3 linked regions of the Homo sapiens genome follow. The protein of the gene in region 1 interacts with the protein of each later gene in a pairwise test. Each region holds a gene or a part of one and is shown in the gene's direction. Other genes may lie near its edges.

Evidence for each region. The genes of interacting proteins can lie anywhere in the genome.
Region 2: the proteins of CEP70 (region 1) and ELOA interact in binary tests that used the Homo sapiens proteins (3 or more experiments, as listed by UniProt).
Region 3: the proteins of CEP70 (region 1) and USP2 interact in binary tests that used the Homo sapiens proteins (3 or more experiments, as listed by UniProt).

The regions. Positions count from the first base shown.
Region 1 is NC_000003.12:138,499,507-138,508,120, reverse strand, and holds part of CEP70 (centrosomal protein of 70 kDa), read left to right. Parts: intron 1-2,655; coding exon 2,656-2,826; intron 2,827-4,243; coding exon of another isoform or gene 4,244-4,285; exon of another isoform or gene 4,286-6,871; intron 6,872-7,239; coding exon 7,240-7,386; intron 7,387-7,553; coding exon 7,554-7,722; intron 7,723-7,896; coding exon 7,897-8,011; coding exon of another isoform or gene 8,012-8,024; exon of another isoform or gene 8,025-8,237; intron 8,238-8,614.
Region 2 is NC_000001.11:23,745,701-23,754,135, forward strand, and holds part of ELOA (elongin-A), read left to right. Parts: intron 1-3,320; coding exon 3,321-3,377; intron 3,378-4,141; coding exon 4,142-4,248; intron 4,249-5,144; coding exon 5,145-6,330; intron 6,331-6,706; coding exon 6,707-6,818; intron 6,819-8,399; coding exon 8,400-8,435. UniProt on the Homo sapiens protein: SIII, also known as elongin, is a general transcription elongation factor that increases the RNA polymerase II transcription elongation past template-encoded arresting sites.
Region 3 is NC_000011.10:119,354,050-119,358,460, reverse strand, and holds the end of USP2 (ubiquitin carboxyl-terminal hydrolase 2), read left to right. Parts: intron 1-208; coding exon 209-312; intron 313-399; coding exon 400-480; intron 481-625; coding exon 626-704; intron 705-870; coding exon 871-978; intron 979-1,153; coding exon 1,154-1,274; intron 1,275-1,538; coding exon 1,539-1,626; 3' UTR 1,627-3,246; downstream 3,247-4,411. UniProt on the Homo sapiens protein: Hydrolase that deubiquitinates polyubiquitinated target proteins such as MDM2, MDM4 and CCND1. Isoform 1 and isoform 4 possess both ubiquitin-specific peptidase and isopeptidase activities.

The DNA.
Region 1 (8,614 bases):
ATTATTAAGTAAATCTATTTTCTTAGGGTCCTTGTATGGCTTTTGTTTTTGTTTAGAGACCTTAGTTCATCTGAAATTTAATTTTCTATATGGTGTGATATAGGGAATCTCACCTTCCTAGTTTTATAGATCATTTATTGAATAGCTGAGCAGTTAAACCTGGTAGTTTAGTGACTGAACTGGACTTTCACTCACATTTTATTGGGTACACATAAGATTTTTAAGTTTTAGATTATTCATTTTTTTAAAAATTAAGATATTTTATTTTTTCTAGGCTGCTATTTCTAACTTCTCCTAAAAAGTCAGAAGATCTGGCAACAAATTCCTGCATGGTTATTATCACAGCAGAATTAGGCCTTTCCCTTGTCAGATATGAGCATGTGTTCTATAGTTAGCAGTCCCTATTCATCCTTACGTCACTCATTTATACTCGTACCTGAATTCTCTGGGCATTTGTGTTTGCAGTCTCTAATACGCTACTTTTTTCTCTACTTTATTGAAATAACATTTTATCATAGATCATATTCATTTATATGCACAGATTTGTTTTTAGATTCTCTAGTCTGTTGCATTTCTCAACTATTTCCATATTTTAATTTCTATAGTTAAAAGTTTTAATAGCCTTTGAGGCAAGTATCCTATCATTAAAAAAATTTTTTTTATTGGCTATATTTTTAGCACATTTATTCTTCTGGATGAACAGTTTTTCAAATTAAAAAATAAATCTCATTGAGATGAACTAAAATTGAATTGACTTTATAGATTAATATTTGGAGAAATGACACCTTAACCTTTTTGAATCATCACATTCAGAAATATGTACTTTCATCAGGGTCATCTTTTATAGTCTTCAATAAAGTGTTGTGTATTTTTAAATTTAGCTCTTGCATATTTCTTGTTAGGAAATACCTTGTTATTTCCTAGGTATTTTATAACTTTTATTGCTATTGTAAATGGGAACCAAGCACCTTTCTGAAAACTGTTTTGTTTTAGACTTTCTTGTACCAGTATATAACTGGATTTCATTTTGTTTCTGAGACTCAATTTGAGAGGCTTTGTCCTTTAAAAGGGGAATTCAAGCCGGGTATGGTGGCTCATGCCTGTAATCTTAACACTTTGGGTGACCGAGGCAGGAGGATTGCTAGAGGGCAGGAGTTTGAGACCAGCCTGGGCAATATAGTGAGACCACATCTCTAGAAAAAAAAAAATTTAATTAGCTGGGCATGGTGGCTTGTGCCTGTAGTCCTAGCACTTGAGAGGTTGACATGGGAAGATCACTTGAGCCCAGGAATTCAACGCTGCAGTGAGCTCCGTTCACACCACTGCACTCCATCTTAGGCTGCAGAGTGAGACTCTGTCAAATAAATATATAAAACAAATATACATACATCAATTTGAAGTGAAATATTGAATTATACTAATTTGGACTTAAAAAGCTTCTAAATAAACATCTGAAGTAATAAACATCTTAAGTCATATTACCAGGAGGCCTATTAGTTATATCTTGAAGTATGACCAGGGACAAAGATTCAAGAGCAAAATGCTATCTTTATATTGTGAAACTTTTTATTAAATAGGCTGAACTTGATGGTGGTAATAGGAAATGGCTTTATTCTTCTCTCTTTAAACATGCTTTTTGAGGTCTCCCTTTTTTTCCTCGGATGATATGTAAGGTAGAACCCATCACTTATGGGGAGAGGGTTATAGTCAAATAGTATACTATCTTAATATATTAAGATACCTAAAATTCAATCCAGGCATCAATGATATTATTTTTGGAGACAGGGTCTTGCTCTGTTGCCCAGGCTGAAGTGCATTATCATAGCTCACTGCAGCCTTGAATTCCTGGGCTCAAGTGATCCTCCTGCCTCAACCTCCCAAAGTGCTGGGATTACAGGCATGAGCCACCACACTCAGCCTGGGGATTGCTGTTAATTTCCTTAAATAGTCTGATAATGTTCTTGTGAGTTTGTAGGAGAATATGCCTACTTTTAAAAGATGCATGCTTTATTATTTGAGGGTGAAGAGTTTCTTCAAATGGTTCACCTAAAAATATAGATAGTGAGCAAATATGGCAAAATACTAACAATTTTTGAACCTAGGTAGTGTTTGTAATAGTTAATTTTGTTTCAACTTTACTGCGGCATAGGATGCCCGATATTTGGTTAAACATTATTCTGGATGTGTCTGGGAAGGTGCTTCTGGATGAGATTGACATCCGAATCAGTAGACTTTAGTAAATCAGACTGCCTTTCCTAATGGGGTGGGCCTCATCCAATGATTCAAAGCCCTGAGTAGAACAAAAGGCTGAATAAGAGGGAGCTCCTCCTCCCTGACTGCTTTCAAGATGGGACACTGGTTTTTTTCTTGCCTTCAGACTCAAACTGAAACATTAGCACTTGCAGGGGTCTCAGTCTGCCTGCATTTGGACTGCAAATACCCATTACCTTTTCTGGGTCTTCGCTTACTCACTGCAGATCTTGGGACTTGTCAGTCTTCATAATTGCATGAGCCAATTCCTTATGATAATTTTCTTTGTATATTTAATGAAATATGTGTATATAATATATATAGACATAAAGCACTCCTTTAAAATATATAACTTTGTAGGCATAGGATAAATATTTTGACTATATACACTATGTTTTTTTAAAGGTGCTGTGTAGCATCAATTCAATTATCCACAATCCAAGAGCTCCAGTAATAATTTATAAACAGACCAAAGGGGGAGTCCAAAATTTTAATAAAGATCTTGTTCAAGATTGTGGATTTGAGCATCTTGTTCCTGTAATAGAAATGTGGGCAGATCAACTGACATCCTTAAAGGTAAGGGGTTGACTATGATTATATGCTTTGAACATCTATTGGACTCTATGTGCTTTATTAATAGGACTTAATTCAGGGCTAAAAATTAAATAGGGTTTAATTTTTTTGTTTGTGTGTTAACTCTAAAGCTAAAAAAGCTTATTATCTAAAACCGAAATCTTCCTACTTACATATCTATTTTAGGTACTGTCTATTTGATGTTGTCATTACTGTAAGCTTTACCTCCTCTAAGATTCTACCAAACAAGAAATTTTGGGGTTAGTTTCCTTATTGAAAATCTATAGTGGATCCACTTTGTACTTCTAGGCCCTTCCCTGTTCTACCTTCATCTGCCTCCTTTTCATATCTCCATGCTGCGATTTTCCTGGCCCTTATCCCTCTTCAGATATAATGTCTTATCCTTCATTTTATTATAATTGGGGATATTTTCTCTCTCTTCACACTTTATTTTCTGTCTCTCAGAACTGAGCTTATCTCCATTTCTGCTTATTCTCTAGAACAGATAGTAAGCTAGCAGCCAACGCTACCCTTCCCTATCCTATCTCTTCATGGAAGACCACATTTTATTTATAGAGTTATTGTGTATTTATTGCATAGCTTCAGGTTTTTTCAGTTTTTGTTAACTAGTTTGCTGAAAGGTAAATAGTTGAAATCAGTAGTATTTAACTTCTTTGCCCTTTACACTTTAGATTTATTAGTAACTAATATAATACATAGCATATGCCTGTTAATGAAAATGTGATTCAATAACAGTGTTTGCAACATAAGTCTTATTACATGAAGTACAAATGATGCAGAAGATATCTGTTAAGAATGTATAAGCTCCATGAAGACAGTGTTTTTATTTGTTCTGATATGTCCCCAAGATCCTCCTGATGAATGAGTGCTCAATTAATATTTGTTAAAAGGAATGAAGCAGAATATTATATTCCAAGACAACAAAATTGGGGGTGGTGATGTTAATTTTTTTTAAATTTCGACTTCCCTTTTTATATAGGGCTCAGACAGAGCTATACAATACATAAACATTTTGATTGAGTGACAGTGCTAGATTAATATACTTACTTTATAGACCGGAGTTCCTCCAGTCTGTATCTCAGAAGAGTGTAAAATAATTAGTAATAGTGTAAATCATGGTATTTCCTCAATCACTGCCTGTCAGAGGGTTCTCCCAGTAGGAGGAAACAGTGCTGACTCCACCTTTCTTCATCTCAGAAGGGATGGACTAGAAAAAGCCCTAGCCTTCCTAGAAGAAAAGACTAGAAGAGGAAGAAGACAAAGGGAAGAATCACACTAATGGATAGTTATTGATCGTTTATCATGCTAAGCCATTATGGGATGAACACAAGATTCAGACTAATTAGACAAAATATACTAAAAAATATGAAACAAAATGTAATCATTTATATCGTTAAAGGAAATGAGTGACATAAAAATAGATTACCGGTTGAAGTTCTGAGTGAATGATGCAGATAACTTGTGCTCTAGAGTCTGGAGGAGAAAGAGAACACTCTGATTGTAGCCCCCAAGAAGGGCTTTGCCATGGTGGTGAGTTCTTGCTATTGTATGGTTTTCTGAGGAGGAGGAGGAGGCAAGGAATTCGCTTTATAATTAGAATATTCTGAGGACACCCAAGAAGAAATTATTAAGAATTAGTTACTTCTGCCATTGGAGTAACTCATGGATTTTGAGCAGTGCTTCAGATATTAATACTACAGTTTCAGGGTCCAAATTAAGAAACTACATGAGATTCTCTGAGGCCTCATATCAAAGGTTATTTGATATGTAGCAACCTCTAAGTTTGGGACAACCATCTTCCCAGATTAGTTTTTTCCCTCAGGTTAAATTTGGCTTTAAAGAGTAAGATAGGTTTGAGGGATGAATGGATAAGCAAAATGTGGTATATACATATATTGCAATATTATTCAGCCATTAAAAGGAAAGAAATTCTGACCCTTGCAACATGGGTGAACATTATGAGGACATTATGCTAAGTGAAATAAGTCAGTCACAAGAAGATTCCACTTATATGATTCCACTTGTATGAGATACTTAGTGAAAATCATAGAGACAAAGTAGAGTGGTGATGGCTAGAGGGAGGAGGGAAATGGGAAGTTATTGTTTAATGGGTATAAAGTTTCAGTGTTACAAGATGAAAAGAATTATGGAGATGGATGGTGATGTTGGTTGCACAACATTATGAACATATTAACACTGAACTTACATTTAAAAATTGTTAAGATGGTGAATTTTATGGGTATTTTACTAGTTTTAAAAATTGGAAGAAAAGAAGGCTGGGAAAGACATGGAGCCAGCTGCCTCCAGCCTTGTGTCTTTTCCCTCCTGCCTTTCCAAGAAAGGTGAACTACAGATGTTGTAGCTTTCCCCAACCCAGTACACTCTTGAATACTTTTGCTTTGCTATTCTCCAGTGCTTCAGAGGCCAGACGTACACGGTAGGCTGGCTCATGGTAGTACTTCTACATCTCCACAACTGGGCAATGTAAAGAACCTAGGAGACCCTCTTATATTTTTCAGAGCTTACTTGATGGACTGTGCTACAACCATCCTGTCACTGCTTAGGAGACCAGAACATCTTTTCTTCTTAGCTTTGTAATACTCTTTTATTCTGAAGCAAAAATGTATTAGATTGGGTATGCTTTTTACCATAGATTACTTTATAAATGTGCCTTGTTCCTGGAGCATTGGTTAATAAAGGTATCATTATGCTGTTACTTGCTGACTTTTTTTTTTTTCAAATTCTAGTGGCATTGATTGTAAAACATTCATTTGACATGGAATTTATTGCTATGAATTACTAAAATAGTAACTGCCTTCCTACCAATTGAAAGGTTAAAGATACCAATATGTGAAGTCTGAGCCTTAAGTGGAGAGTGTCAAGTGAAGTACTAAAATAAGTTAGAAAAAGGAGGAACTTCTTGTACTTCTTTCTGTTCTCTAGAGCTGTGCTGTCTAGTATGGTAGCCTCTAGCTGCATGTGGTTATTGATCACTTGAAAGGTGGCTAGTCCTAATTCAGATGTGTTATAAGTGTAAAATATACACTGGATTTAGAAGACTTTGTATGGGAAAAATTAAAATAATTGATTTTATATTGAAATGATAATATTTTGGATATATTGGGTTAAATAAAATATACTAGTACAGTTAATATCACATGTTTCTTTTCACTTTCCATACTATGGCCCTAGACAACTTAAAATTACTGTGGCTCACATTACATTTCTTTTGGACAGCGTTGTTCTAAAGGACCAAGCGCTGTGCCATACACATATGGATTGAGTATCCCTTATCCACAGTGCTTGGGCCTAGAAGTATTTTGATTAAGAATTTTTTCAGATTTTGGAGTATTTGCAGAATATATGCCATTTGAGCATCACTGATCCAAAAATCCGAAATTCAGAATGCTCCAATGAGCATTTCTTTTGAGTGTCCTGTTGTTGCTCAGAGTTTCAGATTTTGGAGCATTTCAGATTTTCGGACTAGGAATTCTAAATATTTGTCGATTGATCAGTCTAGAGCTCTAAACTTTCAGTAGCCTTGCCCATTGTGCACAGTTTAAAATCAATTAGGGCACCACAACTAGGCCAAGAAAACTAAGTGGAGTATTATAATGTAGAATACATTTAGGGAACCTTTCACATTAAAAACTTGCCTGGAGATACATGTTATAACATGGATAAATCTTAAAAACATTATGCTAAGTGAGAGACGTCATTCATAAAAGACTACTTATTGTATAATTCCCTTTATGCAAAATGCCTAGAATAGGCAAATCCATAGAAACAGAAAATAGTTTAGAGATTAACCCTAGGAGCTGCAGGGAAGGGAAAATGGGGAAGGAAGGACTCTTAGTGGGTCTGAGATTTCTTTTTGGAGTAATGAATATGTTCTGAAATTGGATAGTGCTGATGTTTGTACATGTGTGAAAATATTAAAACTACTGAATTGTATACTTAGGGTAAATTTTATGGTATATGAATTACATCTCAATAAAGCTGTTATATAACATATTCAAAACCAAAATTCAAGGGCAAGTTTATTCTTTGTGTATCAACAATTCAAAATAATGAAATATTATGGAACAATAATAAATAACATAAAATTACTTAGAGCACTCAGATTCAGAATAATCAATATATAATGTTTTCTGTAAAGCCTGTGTTTACCTGGAGAAACCTAATTTTAACTGACTTGTTCTAAATTGGTAGTAGTATTTTTATTTAAAAAAAATGATGGTTACATATATATTTTTTTAACCTGTGTAATTATGTTTTATTAATTTTATAAAACATATAATATATAAAACTTATAATTTTACTAATTATGTTCTATTATGTTACTATAGAAATTATTTAAATCAATAATACCATATAGTTTCTTTTGTTATAAAGGATTTGTATAAGTCCTTGAAAACACTATCTGCAGAACTGGTACCTTGGCTTAATTTGAAGAAGCAGGATGAAAATGAAGGTATCAAAGTTGAAGATTTGTTGTTTATAGTAGATACTATGCTGGAAGAAGTTGAAAATAAGGAAAAGGTAATACCTACATGAACGGTCACCTTCTAATGTTTCTTATCTCAAAAACTGATAAATTGTGGATATTGATATTTGTTCTACTAGAGTTCTATTTGTCTTTTAAAAGTTTTTATTTGGGATTATTTTAAGATAATGAACTCTTTCTTTTTTACCTCTTTTTTGGACAGGACAGCAATATGCCACACTTTCAAACTTTGCAAGCTATTGTTTCTCACTTCCAAAAGTTATTTGATGTGCCTTCTTTAAATGGAGTCTATCCCCGAATGAATGAAGTTTATACTAGGCTTGGAGAAATGAACAATGCTGTGAGAAACCTCCAAGAACTCTTAGAATTAGGTGATGACCTAATTTGTCATTTTGGGCCCCCATTTAAGAATTTTTAATAAATTAACAAAAAGTAGATTAAAAAATGTTTAAGTGAAAAATTGAGGATAACTGAAGCATAAAATGTTTGATGTATGTAATTTTGGAAATTCTCTGTTAAAATATCCTTTTATTTCTCTTTTGCAGATAGTTCATCCTCATTGTGTGTGCTAGTAAGCACTGTTGGAAAACTCTGTAGGCTGATTAATGAAGATGTGAATGAGCAGGTTATGCAGGTATTAGGACCTGAAGACCTCCAGAGGTATTTGTTTTAAAAGTTTACAAAGTATCATCCAGAATGGCTGGGTGTGGTGGCACACGCCTGTAGTCCCAGCTACTTGGGAGGCTGATGTGGGAGGATCACTTGAACCCAGGAGTTTAAGTCCAGTCTGAGCAAGGCAGTGAGACCCTGTCTCTAAACAATAAAAATTAAAATAAGTATTATCGAGAGTTCCTGGAGGGGTGAAATTAAAGACTTTCAAAACTTATTTACCTTCCCTGTTTGGAATAGCATCTTTTGTGTGTGTGTGTGACTGTAAGCACACGCCACCACGCCCAGCTAATTTGTGTGTGTGTGTGTGTGTGTGTAGAGAGAGAGATAGAGACAAGGTTGCACCATGTTGCCCAGACCAGTCTCAAATTCCTGGGCTCAAGTGATCCGCCTGCCTTGGCCTCCCAAAGTGCTGGGATTACAGGTGTGAGCTACCATGCCCAGCCTTGGAATAGCATCTTTTAAGTAACTTGACAATCTAAGATAATCTCAAACCCTTAGGGATGGAGGAAATGCCAAATATTTTCAAGATAAAAATAGATTGTAAGGCCTATAAAGAAGGTCAGGTACTCTTCAGCATAAGCCTGTTTTCAG
Region 2 (8,435 bases), on another chromosome or scaffold:
CCTTGTTCCTCTCAACCTTCTGGTAACCTAACAAGCTCCTACAGGTTGTATGTGAAATTGCAAGATGATTATATAGCCCTGTTGAATTTACAACCAGATCTTGCTTTCAAACCATTATTAGCCAAGGGTTTGATTCCACACCTGTGTTCATGGATTTTTTGGTACTAGACATTGCTGTAACTCTGTTTTCACTTTTTCATCTGTTATCTTGGCTCACTTAAGGGAGAAGGTATCAGCAGCCTAGGACCACTTGGTTTCTGTTTTTATGTTTCATAGTTCATGGCTGATAAAAATTACCTGTCCTTAGGCCGAGTGCAGTGCCTCACACCTGTAATCCCAGCACTTTGGGAGGCCGAGGTGAGTAGATCACCTGAGATCAGGAGTTCGAGACCAGCCTGGCCAACATGGTGAAACCCCTTCTCTACTAAAAGTACGAAAATTAGCCAGGTGTGGTGGCAGGCGCCTGTAATCCCAGCTGCTCGGGAGGCTGAGGCAGGAGAACACTCGAACCCGGGAGGCAGAGGTTGCAGCGAGCTGAGATCGCGCCATTGCACTCCAGCCTGGGCAACAAGAGCGAAACTCCGTCTCAAAAAAAAAAAAACAAAAAAAACACACACACACAGTTGGCCGGGCGCAGTGGCTCACGCTTGTAATCACAGCACTTTGGGAGGCCAAGAGGGGCGGATCATCTGAGGTCAAGAGTTCGAGACCAGCCTGGCCAACATGATGAAACCCCATCTCTACTAAAAATAAAAAAATTAGTTGGTCATGGTGGTGGTGCCTGTAATCCCAGCTACTCGGGAGGCTGAGACAGGAGAATCTCTTGAACCCAGGAGGCGGAGGTTGCAGTGAGCCGAGATGGCACCATTGCACTCCAGCCTGGACAACAAGAGCAAAACTCCATCTCCAAAAAAAAAAAAAAAAAAAAAAAGGATCCTCGTCCTGTGTTACATTTTCACTGTGAAAGCTACCAAGAACATTTTGATGGCAGGTGACATTAAAAATATTTTTTGCTTTTTTGGGTTGAAGGATTGTACAGGGGACAACTGAGATGCCTCAACATGTACCTTGCAAATGTTTGATATTTCTCAGTTGCCTGTTACCAGTTCTTACAAGCTCTATAGTTGGTATCTTGTTTGATAACAGCAAGTTTCGATCCACCTGAGGATGCCCAATGTGCCTTTGCCTTGTTATTGCTTTGTTCTTTCTTGAAATTTACTGAAAATAGAGGGGTTGTGAAGTCCTTTTTTCTCTTGTGTTAGACTAAATGAGTCTGAAAATCTTGAGGGTTTTAGTTTTGTCTGCTTTTAAATCACCCCTAATAACCCAAAGTAAAGCAGAAAGACAGGATTTGTTCTTCCAGTTAGTGCTAGGCTTTGAGATAAACACACCCACAGTGACTTCCAGCCTCATCCTTATATGTTGGCTTTGTAGAGGTCCTGGGACACCTTTGTTCCCTTGGTGACCTCCTTTACTATGTGGGTTCTGAACTGTCTAATGACATCACAGGAGGAGTTTTTCTGCTTTCTTGCAAGTATGCTAAGAAGTATATGTGCTGCCGCTCTATTTTCATTTCCTAAGGACAGTGTTCTGATGTTGGATGCTTCTCCTGGCTTTACTTAACTGTAGTAGACACATTTGACTTTCCAGCTTGTTAAGCAAGTTACCTAACCTGATTGGGTTCAGTTGCAATATCTGTCAAATGGGGAGAATAACATCCACTTTATAGAGTTGGTTAGTGGGAATGAAATGAGGTAACGTGTAAGAGCTTAGTGTAGTAGCTGACACACAATAGATGGTATGTGAATATTCCCAACCTACCCCTTCCAAGGAATGGCATTATGAGAGAACCACTTGTTTTTGACCTTTTCAGTGATTTAAAATTTTCCTTTAAGTGAAGGAATTGGCATTAGTCTTTGCACCCATAGCTTGGGTGGCAAGAAACACAAAATTTTTCCTGAGTTGGATGATGGTGGTGATAGGATTTGAAGTGGGGGATAATTTTCACTCATCTATGAAGGTGAGACTCCCTAGATATGCCACTTGGCCTCTTACTTGATCTCAAGATTATCACTTGTGATCCAATTGCTCTGTCTGGTGACCATGTTAAGTAATGATTGAAGTAGAATGACCAGAAAAACAGACTTGTTACTCCACCTAATAGCAATATGGCATACCAATTATAGTCTGGGCCACACATGGTAAAAGCAGATCTTGTTATATAATATTTAAATGCAAAGGTAACCACAGTTATCTATTTTAAACTACTTGTATTTTGAAGCACTCCTTGTATGGTAAGTATGTTTAGATACACGTAGACATTTCCTAGAGAAAGGTTTGGCCAGTCATAACTTTTGTTAGAGCAAGTAGGAATTGGCTGAGGAATATCTGGTTGAAGATCAAGGGCAGAACGCTGAAAGCTGTCAGTCGATGAATGAAATGATAAGTATTTAGTGAGCTTTCATAGTGTTCTAGACACTATGACTAAGGACTGCACATGGTTTGTCTCTGAATCCTCATAGTTTGTGAAGTAGAGACAGGACCAAGTTCCTATTTTGCAGATGAAGTAACTGAAGTTTGGGGAGGTTTTTGACTTATTCAAGATCACTCATCGAGTGACAAAGCCAGATTGTCAAGCCTGTCTCTGACTCCAGAACTCCATCTTAACAGCTCTGCTGTACTGATTTTGACCTAGTTTTAGGAACTATAGGAAGGAAATGTGATCAAACCCAGATCACTTTTCTAATCTACCCAGGCATTTTGTGTCCACCGTTAACATCCAAGCTCTGATTCTGGCAACTTGAAATTACTCTTGGCTTTACACTTATGTAGAAGAAAACAATTCTGTTAAACACTGTGGCCCTTCTGGAAACATGATGGTCTTTTCCTGTAGAGGCCTTTTCTTCCTTTTACTTCCTCTGTGCCAGGTCCATGGGTAATTCCCCTAAAATTGGTACCTTTCTCATAAATTCTATCAAAACTAGGGCAAAAATGATAGTTGTTGATGGCTTTTATCAGAGTTGGTAAGTTTTGATTCTCTTCTCTACATCTTATTTCCCCTTGGTGTAGCACAGTGGTTGAAAGCAGGGAATCTAAAGCCACAGACCTGAGTGAATCTTGCCCCACTTGCATCTTGGGACAAGAAACATAACTTTTATGAGCCTATTTTCATACTTGTAAAATAGGGATATTACTTACTACTGTAAATAGGCATAATACTTATACTCATTACTGTAAATGGTTAGCACTAAGCACTTAATAATCAGATATTCTTGTTAAAGTGAATTTGACTATTGAAATTAATGTTTTCTTCTCTGCAGCTATTGAAATATTTGAAGAAACTCTCCACCCTGCCTATTACAGTAGACATTCTTGCGGTAAGAACTGTGTGACTTTAAATATTATATAATGATATCCCATTCCCTTCTCACTGGAGAGTGTGTAGAATAAGGTTACAAGTATGGGCTTTGGAAGTGAAAGAAACCAGACACAAAAGGCCATATATTGTCTGATTCCATTTATATGAAATGTCCAGAATAGGCAAATCCATAGACAGAAAGTAGATTAGTGGTTGCCAGGGGCTAGGAGAATTGGGAGGAACAGGATTTCTTTTTAGGGTAATGTAAATGTTCTGGAATTAGATGGTTATAATGGTTATATAATATTGTGAATGTTCTGGAAACCACTGAATTATGTACTTTAGTTAAAGTGGTGAATATTGTTAAATGACTTTATTTCAAAATTAGAATTAAAAGAACATTGACTTTGGCATCAATTAGTCCCAGATTCAAATCTGAGTTCTATGACTTTAGGCTGTTCCTATGTAAAATGGGTCTGATTCCTGCTTCACAGGGTTATTGTAAAGACTGATTCAGAACTGTATGCAAAGCTCTTATCTTAGTGCCTAACACCTGCCCTAATCACTCTTGTTATTAAAGTTCTGAACTTGGTACGCTTTGCTACTGTGTGTCATTAGAGATTTGGGGCATAGACACAAAGTAATTTAGTGTTAAGATTTGCAGGGTATGTTGTAGGAAGGAAGTATTGCTTGTTGAGTTTCTCAAAGTAGAAAGCCTTATTTCTTTAGAAAAACGTTAGCCTAGTTCCAGACCCCTCTAACAATTACTTTGTCAAATTTTAGGAGACTGGGGTTGGGAAAACAGTAAATAGCTTGCGAAAACACGAGCATGTTGGAAGCTTTGCCAGGGACCTAGTGGCCCAGTGGAAGAAGCTGGTTCCTGTGGAACGGTAAGAACATTTCTCTTTAGGTTTGTTCAATTTCATGGTTAAATTTACAGATAGAAAAGGTTTTCTTTATTATTTCTCTTTTGCCTTCTGAAATTGTTTTGCCTCAATTATAAAAAATAATCCATGATCATTGTAGAATATTAGAAAATATTAAAAATAGAAATCAAAATTTCCTATTTCTATCACGCAAAGACAAACGTTATGAACATTTTGGTACGTTTCTTTTTTTTTTTTTTTTTTTTTTTGAGACAGAGTCTCGCTCTGTTGCCCAGGCTGGAGTGCAGTGGCGTGATCTCGGCTCACTGCAAGCTCCGCCTCCCAGGTTCACGCCATTCTCCTGCCTCAGCCTCCTGAGTAGCTGGGACCACAGGCACCCGCCACCACGCCCGGCTAATTTTTTGTATTTTTAGTAGAGACAGGGTTTCGCCGTATTAGCCAGGATAGGATGGTTTTGATCTCCTGACCTCGTGATCTGCCCGCCTCGGCCTCCCAAAGTGCTGGGATTACAGGCGTGAGCCACCGCGGCTGGCCTGGTATGTTTCTTTCTAACTGCTCCTTAAATGGCATTTTTTTAAGTTGTGAACTAGATAAATAGTGAGCAGCCCCCATTTTATATAACAAATTAAACATGTCCCCATGTTTTAATAAATCTCCACATTTTCATGTATATGAGATATTTGATCTTTGCATCTTGTGGTTAAACTCACCATTTCTCATTTGGGTTTTCCCAGTTTTAAGATTTGAGTATCTTTAAGCATAACCTACTTATCTTCTTCTTAAGACCTTGTTGTTTCTAACTCTGCATCTTCACTTCTTTGGTGAGTTCAGATTCTGTGACTTTGTCCCTCAAGAAGCAAGATTTAGACCTACTTTGTCTGCTTTTTCTTTTATTTTAGAAATGCTGAGCCTGATGAACAGGACTTTGAGAAGAGCAATTCCCGAAAGCGCCCTCGGGATGCCCTGCAGAAGGAGGAGGAGATGGAGGGGGACTACCAAGAAACCTGGAAAGCCACGGGGAGCCGATCCTATAGCCCTGACCACAGGCAGAAGAAACATAGGAAACTCTCGGAGCTCGAGAGACCTCACAAAGTGTCTCACGGTCATGAGAGGAGAGATGAGAGAAAGAGGTGTCACAGAATGTCACCAACTTACTCTTCAGACCCTGAGTCTTCTGATTATGGCCATGTTCAATCCCCTCCATCTTGTACCAGTCCTCATCAGATGTACGTCGACCACTACAGATCCCTGGAGGAGGACCAGGAGCCCATTGTTTCACACCAGAAGCCTGGGAAAGGCCACAGCAATGCCTTTCAGGACAGACTCGGGGCCAGCCAAGAACGACACCTGGGTGAACCCCATGGGAAAGGGGTTGTGAGTCAAAACAAGGAGCACAAATCTTCCCACAAGGACAAACGCCCCGTGGATGCCAAGAGTGATGAGAAGGCCTCTGTGGTGAGCAGAGAGAAATCACACAAGGCCCTCTCCAAAGAGGAGAACCGAAGGCCACCCTCAGGGGACAATGCAAGGGAGAAACCGCCCTCTAGTGGCGTAAAGAAAGAGAAGGACAGAGAGGGCAGCAGCCTGAAGAAGAAGTGTTTGCCTCCCTCAGAGGCCGCTTCAGACAACCACCTGAAAAAGCCAAAGCACAGAGACCCAGAGAAAGCCAAATTGGACAAAAGCAAGCAAGGTCTGGACAGCTTTGACACAGGAAAAGGAGCAGGAGACCTGTTGCCCAAGGTAAAAGAGAAGGGTTCTAACAACCTAAAGACTCCAGAAGGGAAAGTCAAAACTAATTTGGATAGAAAGTCACTGGGCTCCCTCCCTAAAGTTGAGGAGACAGATATGGAGGATGAATTCGAGCAGCCAACCATGTCTTTTGAATCCTACCTCAGCTATGACCAGCCCCGGAAGAAAAAGAAAAAGATTGTGAAAACTTCAGCCACGGCACTTGGAGATAAAGGACTTAAAAAAAATGACTCTAAAAGCACTGGTAAAAACTTGGACTCAGTTCAGAAATTACCCAAGGTGAACAAAACCAAGTCAGAGAAGCCGGCTGGAGCTGATTTAGCCAAGCTGAGAAAGGTAACCCCTTCAGCCCCTTGGTGGCTTCCCACCCAGAGCACCTGGCCCTGCAGAGCTCAGAGGATTGCCCTGCCACTGTTTTCCTTAGCTTGCTTTTGGGGGGCATGTTGAATTTCAGTGTGCAGTAATTTCCTCTGGGCTTCACTGGTTGTCAGGGTATATGGTACCGCAAATAAGAATTTTCTGCATTATTCTCTTGTGATGGGCTCATCTGTATTTATTTCCTGACTGAGGTGGTGTCAGACATGACTGTGGCCCCCTCCAACCTGGATCTTCCTGTGCAAGATGTCCAGTTAATGCTCCCGGGAATAGACTGTAGGAAAGAGAGCTGTGCTTCTACTCACTGACTCTCCACCCATGGGTCTGTCCCCTGCAGGTGCCTGATGTGTTGCCAGTGTTGCCAGACCTCCCGTTACCCGCGATACAGGCCAATTACCGTCCACTGCCTTCCCTCGAGCTGATATCCTCCTTCCAGCCAAAGCGAAAAGGTAATTTTCTATATCTTCTTTTTCTTAATGGGAAAAAGATTTAAAAATTCATTCAAGGCAGGGTACAGTGGCTCACACCTATAATTCCAGCACTTTGGGAGGCCGAGGTAAGAGGATTGCTTGCGGCCAAGGGTTCTAAACCAACCAGGCGTGGTGGCTCACTCCTGTAATCCCAGCACTTTGGGAGGCCGAGGCGGGCAGATCACCTTAGGTAAGAAGTTCGAGATTAGCCTGGCCAACATGGTGAAACCCTGTCTCTACTAAAAATACAAAAATTAGCCAGGCATGGTGGTGCGTGCCTGTAATCCCAGCTACTCCGGAGGCTGAGGCAGGAGAATTGCTTGAACCTGGGAGGTGGAGGTTGCAGTGGGCCGAGATTACGCCATTGCACTCAAGCCTGGGTGACAAGAGGGAAACTCTATTTCAAAAAAAAGGAGTTCTAAACCACCCTGGTCAACACAGCAAGATGCTGTCTCTACAAGAGAAAAAAAGTAGCCAGGCATGGTGGCACATCCCAGGTACTCGGTAGGCTGAGGTGGGAGTATCACTTGAGCCCAGGAGTTCAAGGCTGCAGTGAGCTCTGATTGCATCACTGCACTCTAGCTTGGGTGACAGAGCAAGACTGTTTCAAAAACAAACAAAAAAACTATCACCATAACATCAGATTTTTGATGCATTTCCTAAGTGCATAGACTCTGAAGTTTGATGGCTTGGGTTTGAATCCCAACTCTGGTTTCTGCAAGTTATATGACCTTGAGAAATATCTTAATTTCTTTGGACCTTAGTTGTATATATTGTGTAAATGGGAGTTATAATGGTATCTGCCCCATAGGGCTCAGTTTAATGAATTCAGAAGTGATGCCTTTTTGCTCTGGGTTTATCACATAGTAATTGTTCAGTAAATTGCTGCTGCTGTTATTAGCAGCCCTTTATCCTATGTGTTACATAGGATTTTTGTCTGAAAGAAAAAAATGTCTAATTTTCATAGCAAAAGAAGTAGAAGCCACATAAGGGTCTATCAGCAGGAGACTAACAGATAAATCATGGTTCATCTACACAGTGGCATCCTATGCCACAGTAAAAAAAAAATGTGGAAAGTCTATGCACTGACATGGAATGATCTCTCAGATGTGGCAAATGAAAAAAAGCAATGTATGTAGTGAGTATGTTATTAATTGATTCATTGGCTTAAAAGGAATAAGATACATTTGCTTTTTTTTGTTGTTGCTGTTGAGAGTCTTGCTGTGTTACTCAGGCTGGAGTGCAGTAGCTCCATCTTGGCTCACTGCAGCCTCCACCTCCTAGGTTCAAGCAATTCCTCTGCCTCAGCCTCCTGAGTAGCTGGGACTACAGGTGCATGTTGGGCAGGCTGATCTCGAACTCTTGACCTCAGATGATTCATGTGCCTTGGCCTCCTAAAGTGCTGGGATTACAGGAGCTTATTTTTAAATTCTCTGGAAGGATCTACAAAAATCTGTAGCGTGGATTGCCATTGGGAAAGGGAAGTAGGAGGCTGAAGGGGGTAGAAGGAGAGTTTTCACTGGATCACTTAGGGCCTTTTGTGTTTTTCTTGCCCTATAGCGTTCTCTTCACCCCAGGAAGAAGAAGAAGCTGGAT
Region 3 (4,411 bases), on another chromosome or scaffold:
ACCTGTAATCCCAGCTACTTGGGAGGCTGAGGCAGGAGAATCACTGAACCCAGGAGGCAGAGGTTGTTGTGAGCTGAGATTGCACCACTGCACTTCAGCCTGGGGGACAGAGCAAAACTCCATCTCAAAAAAAAAAATAAAAGCTGCTGTGCAGAAGACCATGCTCTACTTCCTGTATTTCAGCATCTCATGGCCTTCTCTTCCCCAGATCTCTTTGTTGGGCAGCTAAAGAGCTCGCTGACGTGTACAGATTGTGGTTACTGTTCTACGGTCTTCGACCCCTTCTGGGACCTCTCACTGCCCATTGCTAAGGTATGCACCCCAGTTGCCCGCCTTGTTGAACTCCCTCTCCTGTCCTTTCATGTTGACCTCTGACCTTTGCTTTTTTCCCCTTCCCAGCGAGGTTATCCTGAGGTGACATTAATGGACTGCATGAGGCTCTTCACCAAAGAGGATGTGCTTGATGGAGATGAAAAGCCAGTAAGTCACCCTTCGGTAATAGCAAGAACAAATTTCCGTGGGACCTACTGGGAAGAGGCTGATACCAGCAGATCCAGTTGAGGAGTGACTGGATTGGGGCCCACTGACTTCCCCACAAGTTCTTTCTGTTTGTCTTGTCTCTCAGACATGCTGTCGCTGCCGAGGCAGAAAACGGTGTATAAAGAAGTTCTCCATCCAGAGGTTCCCAAAGATCTTGGTGCTCCGTATCCTTAAGATCCATCAGGGCTGGGACATGACTTTCAAGGGTGACTGATGACAAGGGGCCCATAGGTGAGGGGAACAGTCGGAAGAAACGGACCTTGTAGGCTTTCCTTTTGTTGTCTGCCCTTCTGCATTGGTTTGACTATCCTTGACTCACGTCAATGCCAGATCTGAAGCGGTTCTCAGAATCCAGGATCCGAACCAGCAAGCTCACAACATTTGTGAACTTCCCCCTAAGAGACCTGGACTTAAGAGAATTTGCCTCAGAAAACACCAGTGAGTATCTTTGAGTAGGCAGGGCAGAATGAAGACGCAGGTGTGCAAGGCCGGAGGGAGGGCAGGAGGAAGGGGAGCTGCCAGCACCAGCTACTGAGAGACCCAGAAGGAGAGGTTGGAGGGGGGAAGTCGGGGCAGGGGGGCCTCGGGGGCTTGACGGCTGCCTCCTCCTCAGACCATGCTGTTTACAACCTGTACGCTGTGTCCAATCACTCCGGAACCACCATGGGTGGCCACTATACAGCCTACTGTCGCAGTCCAGGGACAGGAGAATGGCACACTTTCAACGACTCCAGGTGAGAGCCAGGGCAGGGCCGGAGCCCCTGGCTGTAGCCACCCACTCTCCCCCCACTCCTCCACCCTCCCCCCAAACCCACCCCCCTCCCACCCCCCGCACGGCTTACACCGAGAATGGATGGCAAAGTTTAAGGCCACGAAGCCGCTGCCCGTGGGGAGGCTCCCTGAAAGGCAGGCCGGCCGGCCTCGGGGGCACAGAAAGAAGCCGGCGGGGGGTCTCCCGGTCCTGCCCGCTCCGGGCTGACTCCCCGCTCTCTCCGCAGCGTCACTCCCATGTCCTCCAGCCAAGTGCGCACCAGCGACGCCTACCTGCTCTTCTACGAACTGGCCAGCCCGCCCTCCCGAATGTAGCGCCAGGAGCCACGTCCCTTCTCCCTTCCCCGTGGTGGCCCCGCTCCCTAAATTTTTTAAAAAGACAAAAACAAAACAACAACAACAACACACAAACCTGACAAGAGAAAAACAAACCTGAAGCTGCCGAGCAGGAGTGGATGCAGCCTGATCAGGGTCTGGAGCAAGGAGCCGGGCTTTCCTGAGCTGTGGCCCGGCAGGGAAGATCGCCTGGACGTGGAGCCAGCATCGCCCCGTGCCCTCGGCGTTTGCATTTGTAAACTTGTGGTCTTCCTATGTGTCAGAAACAACTGTGTCTTGGGGGGGAAGACCCTCGCTGCGCCGCTTCCCGCCGCAGCGCCCGCGCCTCCGAGGGGACAGCGCCCTCTGGAGCTCGCTGGGAGCATCACCGCCTGGACGCCCGCGCCGCGGAGGAGCCGGCGCCCATCTCCACCCGCACGGCTCGCCGGTCCAGAGCCATGAGCCAAGAGCCCTCTTCACGCTGCTAACTCCAGGGGACAGACGAAGGGACATCTTTGGAAAACGCTGGTTTTGGTTTTTAAAAAGCCCAACTTTTTTTTTTTAATTTCCATAACTAAAGTGTTCAGACTGGAGTGCTCTCCTTCAGGCCTCTTCATAGCTGGGACGTTGCACTGGTCCTTTTATTGCTTTTCCAAGTACAACTTTCTAATGCTAGCCCTCCGTGGTGCTAGGTGGGCGTTGGCCAGGCCCCAAGCACAGCCACAGTAGACCTGGGATCTAAAACAAGTTTCTGTTTTGGGGGTTTGGGTTTTTTTTTTTTTTTTTTAATGTTTTGAATGGAATTTAGTTGCCTCCAAGAATTGTGCCTTATAGCATTTGGGGACCAGGGGGTAACTGCCCCTCCTGAAATATCCCTCAGCCTCTTCCCTTTTCCCCAGTGCTCTGTTCAAACCCGCCTGGGAAAGGGATCCTGCCCTTAGCCCTGGCTCGTTGTGCATTGCAGTGAGGCAAAGAAGAAAGCAGGTAGATTCCTTCCGACAGGGCATCAAGTTCTTCCCGCCCACGTCCTCTAGCCCACCCCTGGTCTGCTCCCCAGCTGTTTGAAGGATAGCACAAGCCCCTCGTCCCTAGAGCTTCTCTCCCTTTTATTTATTCTCTTAACATCCCTTTCCCCCTGGCCTTCCTGCCCCCGCCCCCTTCTCAGAGCCTCCTAGACAATAGGCCCTTTGGACCGAGTTTCTCAGGGATGCCCAGGCCACCCCTCAGCTCTTCTTAGCGCTGGTCTCCAGTCCTGCCCTGGGAGCTGGAGCCTGGGTATTTGGGGACATCTTGCCTCAGTTGTATGGTTCTTTCCTGTGGGCTCAATTTTGCCCTACATAGTTGGATAAAACTCTGTGCTGTCCTGGAGAGTAAAGCTGTTCACCCACACAGCTGGGCCCGGCTTGTGCCCCGTGGAGCCTGGCACATTCCAGGCTCCTAGGAGGAGGCATCAGAGAAAGACACCCTGAGTTTTACTGGCCTGACACCCTTCTCCAGAGAAGACCTGTGAACCTGAGCCCAAGGGCAAGTGTACACTTGTTTACTGTGTAAGCAAGAGTAGAAGAATGTCTAATGTACAGTGGAACCTTGTACAGAATAAATAATAGCTTTGAGAAATCAGTTGGCAGATGTTGGAATCTTGATTTGGGAGTGTTTGAATCTAGGAAGGGCTCCTAGTATATTAGGGGCCATCTATTTCATTGTTTCAACCAGTTTGTAAATTCCAAGTTTCTGGAAAAAGTTACCCACTTTTTAGTTTGAACATTTAAGTTTAATTTTTTAAAAACTGAAACAATACATATTTTGGACACTATATTCTTCATCTGGATTCACCAATTGTTTACAAACACATTTAAATATACAGCCATCCCCCAGTATACACAGGGAGATTGGTTCCAAGATACACACATACCAAAATCTGCACCATATTCAAGTCCCAAGGTCACCCCTGCAGAACCTGCGTATATGAAAATCAGCCTTCTATATATGTGGGTTTTGCATCTTACAAATGCAGTATTTTCTATCCTTATTTGGTTGAAAAAATCCACGTGAAAGTGGACCCACACAGTTCAAGCCCGCATTGTTCAAAGGTCAACTGTACTTTATTCTGTCTGCCGAAACATTTTCAGGTGAGGTGTTATATCACCACTTCTAAATACTTGAGCATACATCTCCTAAGAATCAGGACATTCTCCTATGTGACATGGTTTTCACATGTCCATTTTTTTTTTTAATGAACTGTCTACTTTTTAATGCTGGTATGGGCTACTCTCTTAATTCTTGGTTGAAACTCTTGGGGCTGGGCATGGTGGCTCACACCAGTAATTCAAGAAGTTGAAGTGAGAGGATGGCTTAAGGCCAGGAGTTTGAGACCAGCCTGGGCAACATAGTGAGACCCTGTCTCTATGAAAAAAGAAACACTTGGGTGTTTTCACAGACCTATGATAAGATAAAATACATCTCTCCAGCAGATGTCAAATATAGCAAAACTTGCTCTTAGAGCAGAGTATCATTACCTGGATGTGGAGTGACCAGGGCTTAGTCTTTTTTTTTTTTTTTTTTTTTTTTTGAGACAGAGTTTCACTCTTGTTGCCCAGGCTGGAGCGCAATGGCATGATCTCAGCTCACTGCAACCTCCATCTCCTGGGTTCAAGCGATTCTCCTGCCTCAGCCTCCCAGTAGCTGGGATTACAGGCATACGCCACCACGACCAGCTATTTTTCTATTTTTAGTAGAGACGGGGGTGTCTCCATGTTGGTCAGGCTGGTCTCGAACTCCTGACCTC